2 linked regions of the Homo sapiens genome follow. The protein of the gene in region 2 interacts with the protein of the main gene of each other region in a pairwise test. Each region holds a gene or a part of one and is shown on either strand. Other genes may lie near its edges.

Region 1 (3,259 bases), on a different chromosome or scaffold from region 2:
ATGGCGCGATCTCGGCTCACTGCAACCTCTGCCTCCCAGGTTCAAGCGATTGCCTTGCCTCAGCCTCCCAAGTAGTTGGGATTAACAGTGCCCACCACCACACCTGGCTAATTTTTGTATTTTTAGTAAAGACAGTGTTTCACCATATTGGCCAGACTGGTTGTGAACTCTAGGCCTCAAGTGATCTGCCTGCTTCGGCCTCCCAAAGTGTTGGGATTACAGGTGTGACCCACCGCACCTGGTGTCACAGGTTCATCTTGTATTTTCCCATCTCAGCCCTGGAATCCGATGTTTCTCCAGAGAATCTGGGTTCCTCTTAGTGGAAAATGGTATTTAGAAGCCAAGGTTTTGGTGATAAGTATGCTCTTTGCTTGTGGAACATCTCTGCTCCCAGGCTCTCTCAGTGAACAGAGTTAGGGAGTGTGTGTGTGTGTGCGCGCGCGCGCGCGCATGTGCATACATATACACCTAAGTACACATGAGTTTACTCTGATAACATCCATTTCCAATCCAGCATCACAGAGTTGATCCTAGGTTCTTCCCTCTTCTCTAATTGTGAGAAACCTGGCTTCCATTACCCTTAGGTTATTTACTCATTTGATTAACCGCCTGCAGGTAAGTAATCTCCCATCTACACTGCCACGCCTTCTCCTGTATGGACGTCCTGCCTACCCTGCTCAGGCTCTAACTCCCAAGTCCAGCTTTCCCTGAGTCTGCAGCTGTCTTCCTCACACTCCCGTGGCCCACCACAACTTCCCCCCACCTCCTTGTCACTGTGGTCCCCTAATGGCGTTAGGCCTGAATGAAGAAGGGGGAAGGATGAAGAGGACATTGGTAGCTTGCCTTAACTCCCCAGGTAATTCTAATGTGCAGTGATTGACAGCCACTAAGATACATCACCTGACTTTGTGAGTTCACCATTCGGTCTGCAATGGGTTTTGGTAACTCAGTGGCTCTGTATGCCGTGCTGAAGGGGAAAAGGGCAAAGTGCAAAGGCAGGAGGGATGGAGAAAATATAGCAGCTGCCATTTATTTGTGTTTTTCCTACAGCGGTGGTTCTCCACCCTGGTTGCCCATGCTGGAGCTTTAACAAAAGCCAATGTGGACCCATTGCCCAGAGACTCTGATCCCATGGGTCTGTTTTGTTTAAAATGCTCTTCAAGGCATTGTGAGGCCAGGAAAACAAAGAACCAAGGCTCTCCCGGGTGCGGTGGCTCACGCCTGTAATCCCAGCACTTTGGGAGGCCGCGGAGGGCAGATCACGAGGTCAGGAGATCGAGACCATTCTGGCCAACATGGCAAAACCCTGCCTCTACTAAAAATACAAAAATTAGCTGGGCATGGTAGTGCGTGCCTGTAGTTCCAGCTACTTGGGAGGTTGAGGCAGGAGAATCGCTTGAATCCGGGAGGCAGAGGTTGCAGTGAGCCGAGATTGAGCCACCGCACTCCAGCCTGGTGACAGAGCGATACTCTGTCTCAAAAAAAAAAAAAAAAAACCCAAGGCTCTCGAGGCATGCATGCTGTTCAGCGAGCCCTGCCCTGCATTGCGAAAGGGTAGAGATTTGTTTATTTGTCAGTATTGAAAGCATGGCTTGCAAAGTTTTCCTGTTAAGAGTCAGATAGTAAATATTTGGGACTTCGTGGGCCTTATAGGCTCTGCTGCAATTACTTAACTCTGCTGTTACAGTGTGAGAGCAGCTGTAGACTATAGTAACGTACAGCCGGTGTGGCTGTCTTCTAAGAAAGTATTATTTACAAAAACAGGCAGGTTGCTAGATTTGACCTGAGGGTGTAGTTTGCAGAGCCTTGGTAAAGGTTTTCAAATTTGCATTTTAAGCCCTCCAATTTCAAGTTATGCTATTGGTGGGGAATTTTAATTAAACAGAAAATAATCACCAATATTGGCTCAAATATTTCCTGATTTAAAAAAAAATCTGCTCTTGTTCCTATAAATAGTATATAAGATGTAATCTTGCCCTGGGTTAAACCAGTCTACAGAGGTAGATCTCGCATTTGCTTTTGTTTTCTTCTACTTCAACTCTTGTCATGATCCCAAATTAAACAACTAGCAACAGAAATGTTCAAATCTGTCAAATCCAAGTGTTAACAGACCTGGGACCAGGGGTTCCTCATAGTGGCTTAGCACAGCATACAGACCACTTTCCTTTGGCCCAACCGGCCTTGGGGTCTGGAGCACCAAACAGGCCCTGAGGAAGCGTGCAAGGAACTGGAATGCGGGGAAAGTGATGAAATATTTTGTTGGTTGGCCTTTGCTTGTTTGCAAAATATATCCAATGCTCACACCTGAGAGACAACAGACATCCTTATTTGTGAATAGTCTGCACTAGATAATTCAGATTTCAAGTCATCTGTCATTCGTACTTGATAATGATTTGTTCTTCATTTAAAGTGGCCTGGGTACAGAGCAACATCCCCTGTCTTTATCACATGAGCTCTGCCTGAGGCAGCTTCAGCAGGTAGGCAGGCAGGCAGATGGAGCACAGCCCATTCTCTGCTGGTGCACTAGGAACAGCAGCACGTGTGGTGTTAGCAGCTAATAATTAAAACAACGTTTAAGCAGTGGGTTGAGATTTTTAAACACAAACCAACTCAAAAACACTTCTCTGCTTTCTATGTAATAGTGCTCACATCATTTGTATGATTGTCTCGTCTCTTTAAAATTGGAAATATTCTTGTTTCCCCAAACTGCTAATAAGCTCTACTGACCCATGCTAAAAATAAAGCTCTTTCGGCTGGGCGCAGTGGCTCATGACTGTAATCTCAGCACTTTGGAAGGCTGAGGTGGGTGGATCACTTGAGGTTAGGAGTTCAACATCAGCCTGGGCAACATAGTGAAACACCATCTCTATCCCAAATACCAAATTAGCCAGGCACAGTGGCAAGTGCCTGTAGTCCCAGCTACTCAGGAGGCTGAGGCAGCAGAATCACTGGAACCTGGGAGGCGGAAGTTGCAGTGAGCCAAAATCGCGCTACTGCACTCCAGCCTGGGCAACAGAGCAAGACTCGATCTCCAAACAAACAAACAAAACAAAACAAAACAACAAGAAAAACAGAACGTGGTGGCTCATGCCTGTAATCCCAGCACTTTGGGAGGCCAAGGTGGGTGAATCACCTTAGGTCAGGAGTTCAAGACCAGCCTGGCCAACATGGTGGAACCCCCATATCTACTAAAAATAACAAAATTAGCCGAGTGTGGTGGCACATGTCTATAATCCCAGCTACTTGGGAGGCTGAGGCA
Region 2 (3,500 bases):
GTTTTTTTTTTTCTTCTTGCTGGGGCATTGGAAATGTCAGAAAACCCAATTAAACTGGCTTAGAAATAATGGAAATTTTTTGGGCTCACATAATAAAAAATTTAAATAGTGGACCTAATCCAGTGGCTCACAGCATGTCCCCGGGGATCTGTCTGTTGTTTCTCTTCTGGTTGCCTCCCTTGGGGACGCAGGATAGCTGCTGGCTGCTCCCAGAGGTACGTCTTTTCTATTTGCTTTTTGTGGGAAGGTGATCTTTCAAAAAAGTGCTCTTTATGGTGGAGTTTATAGATTGTTGCTAACGTGGTCCGGTACTACTGACAGATAAACATGGTCTTACCCAATTAAATGAATACATACCAAAAGTAACTGTCTAATGAAATAAGACCTGTATTCATACCACTTTCTCTCCTCGTTCCTGACAGAACTCTCTCAGAACAGCCTAGCAAGCAGAAGGCAGTAGAAGTTTGTTAAAAGAATGGACAATCCAGCCCACCAAATAATCTGATATTGAGTGTTTGAATTATGGAGGGAAGCTAAACTTCATCCCCTGTGAGGCACCCATCCTGGGCTTCACTCACACTGGACTAGGGTGGGTCACGTGCCCACCTCTAAACCAGTTCCTGGAGTTGGGAGGGCGGAATTAGAGCTCAAGACTTCTTCCTCCCCTCTACAGCCACATTGCACTGGGCTCCTTGTGACACACGTGTGCTCCATGGGGGGTGTGTACCCAGGTAAACCTAGGGGCTCTTATTCAGGAGGGAGGGGGCACTGGGTGGTTAAAAACAGCGATTGTCACCATGGCAAAAACAAGATGTTTTTTATGAGGGAAATAAAAAATAAAGCAGTCCTTCCAAACTTTCCAGAATATAGATATAATGGAAACTTTTGTATATGCAAATGATTACTTATATATGTAGAGATGCAATATATAAAATATAAACAATCATCTTTCGTCCACATAAGATCGCCCTGATTTGTAGCATTTGCTAATTTCTGTGGTATAAATACTCCTACTGTGGCTGATGCCAGGCTTCCAGCATTATGTGACTGAGCACAGAGCTGTGCAGTGATGAGCAGCATCAGCAGGTGCAGCCAGCTCCGGGCACCACTGCACAGATCAGTGCACCTTCATATGCCCAAGGCTCGCAGCAGGGGCGGACCAATGCTGCATTTTATAGACAGAGTAAAGCCTGTCATGTAAGACTATTTATGTGAACCTTTCAGGACACTTGGGGTAAACACATTTATTTAGTAGCATCTTGACTAATAACAATTTCCTTGATCTAAACCTCCCAACAGCTTTTTGGTTCTAAATTATTATTTATTATTTTTCTACCTAGATTTTTAGACATTAGCTCACCCATTTTTTATACGGCTTTCTGTATTAGATTAATTGGTTTTTGCATGTTTTCAAATGAAGAGTGCTTAACAGCAGGGTTACACTTAAAGTAGTTATGTTAAGGTAATTCATAATAATGAAGACAGGCAAGTTGCTGTTTTCTGAGGTTCTCATTGAGGCTAATAGTCTTAAGCTACATCATGAGCCTTAAGAGCCAATGTTTGCATATGGGATGTATACCACGAGCTTCTAGAAGCTGGAATGTGGTAATTTTGTTATAGAAGATTTTATTTGACTCGTTCCTCATTTTAAGATGAGTTGAGAAAAGCTGGGTACTCTCAAAGTTTTTTAAGAATTTATTTTTCTGCTTTATATGCTGCTATCTCCTAGTTGATAGCTTGAACGGTGGTTGATCTAAAGAATCACATTTTTTTTATTACTAATTTGGTTAAAACACTGATATTTGTGAAATGGCTATTTCTGTTTGTAAAGATAGACCAATTTCACAGAATTGAAGTTACTGGCTAATTGAGAGGCTCAAAATGGTCCATCTTCCTTGGTCCTGCAAGAGTAATAAAAAATCCCCACAAAATACTGTTCTGCCACCTTACTTTATTTACAAAACACATTATTGGGCATATTTCAAATCGAAGTCTCATTTCTGTGACACTGGGTTTTGATTTTCTTTCTCTGCCATTGTAAACTAGCTGGTCTGTGTTAGATAAGCTTTTACTGAAGTAATATTGTGTCTTCCCCTGTAGCATTCTCTTTCTTGAGTGACCTTAGGACAGGGTACAGAATAAAATTATATGCTCTGCAGCACTCTTGAGGACACACTCATTTACTTGCTGCCAGATCATCAGGTTAGCCTTGTGCTTAAGCAAAAACACTGCTGCATTTGTGCCAAGTCAGCATTTTCCACAGGAAAGTAATCTGTATTTGACCTTTTTAGTAGAAAATGGAAATAGTTGCTTTCTGTCATACCTTTAGTGAATGATAGGAGACCTATTTCTGTACAGAATACATTGGAACCTCACTAGTACGTTATTGGTAAATAGTGTACAGTGTTCATCTGTCTTGATTTTGTTTCATTCAAGAGGTATCAGTTGCTGAAAGGAATGAAAGGAGCTTGTCCTTTCTTCTCACTTATCAGGTGGTCCTGTTGCTGGTAGTCCCTGAGATCACAGTTGGCTTCCAGCTTCATTTTATTCAGCATTTATTTAGCACCTTATCTTTGCCAGGAGCTAAGATCTTTAAGCTGAATTCATGTTGAGTTTTATAAAGAATTTAGTATGTCAAATAATTTGTAGAATTCTTAGTAACAGAATAGGATAAAAAGCAGTGGAAACTTCTCAGCAGATATTTCGAATTGGATAGTACTTCCTCCCCTGCAGGAAATATGGAAGGTATAAGAACTGCTACTAATTATGCGGAAATTTCAGTTTAGTAACCAGAAAGTTACTGATATACAGCTCCCCCCGCCCCACCCCTTTAAAAATAATAAACAGGGGCCAAGTGTGGAGGCTCATGCCTGTAATCCCAGCACTTTGGGAGGCTGAGGTGGGTGGATCACTTGAAACCAGGAGTTCAAGACCAGCCTGGCCAACGTGGCAAAACCCCATCTCTACTAAAAATGTATAAAAATTAGCCGCACGTGGTGGTGCATGCCTGTAATCCCAGCTACTGGGGTGGCTGAGGCATGAGAATCGCTTGAACCTGGGAAGTGAAGGTTTCAGTGAACCGAGGTCATGCCACTGCACACCAGCCTGGGCGACAGAGTGAGACTCTGTCTCCAAAAAAAGGGATGAATAATAGTAATAATAATAAACAGAAATGCTGTCTCTTTTTTTTTTCTTTTTTGAGACAGTCTTGCTGTGACACTGGAGTGCAGTGGCGTGATCTCGGCTCACTGCAACCTCAATGCAAGCCATTCTTCTGCCTCAGCCTCCTGAGTAGCTGGGATTACAGGCACGTGCCATCATGGCCAGCTAATTTTTGTATTTTTAGTAGAGACGGGGTTTCACCATGTTGGTCAGGCTGGTCTCTAACTCCTGACCTCGGGTGATCTGCCTGCCTTGGCCTCCCAAAGTGCTGGGATTACAGGTGTGAGCCACTGCGCCTGGCAAGAAATGCTGTCTCTTAAGCAAAGAAAAGGTCCCTC

Evidence for each region.
Region 1: the proteins of LMNB1 (region 2) and ABCG8 interact in a two-hybrid assay, tested with the Homo sapiens proteins (one large-scale study listed by BioGRID and IntAct).

What each region holds. Positions count from the first base shown.
Region 1 is NC_000002.12:43,880,230-43,883,488, forward strand, and holds the end of ABCG8 (ATP-binding cassette sub-family G member 8), read left to right. Parts: 3' UTR 1-2,759; downstream 2,760-3,259. UniProt on the Homo sapiens protein: ABCG5 and ABCG8 form an obligate heterodimer that mediates Mg(2+)- and ATP-dependent sterol transport across the cell membrane.
Region 2 is NC_000005.10:126,829,136-126,832,635, forward strand, and holds part of LMNB1 (lamin-B1), read left to right. Parts: intron 1-3,500. UniProt on the Homo sapiens protein: Lamins are intermediate filament proteins that assemble into a filamentous meshwork, and which constitute the major components of the nuclear lamina, a fibrous layer on the nucleoplasmic side of the inner nuclear membrane.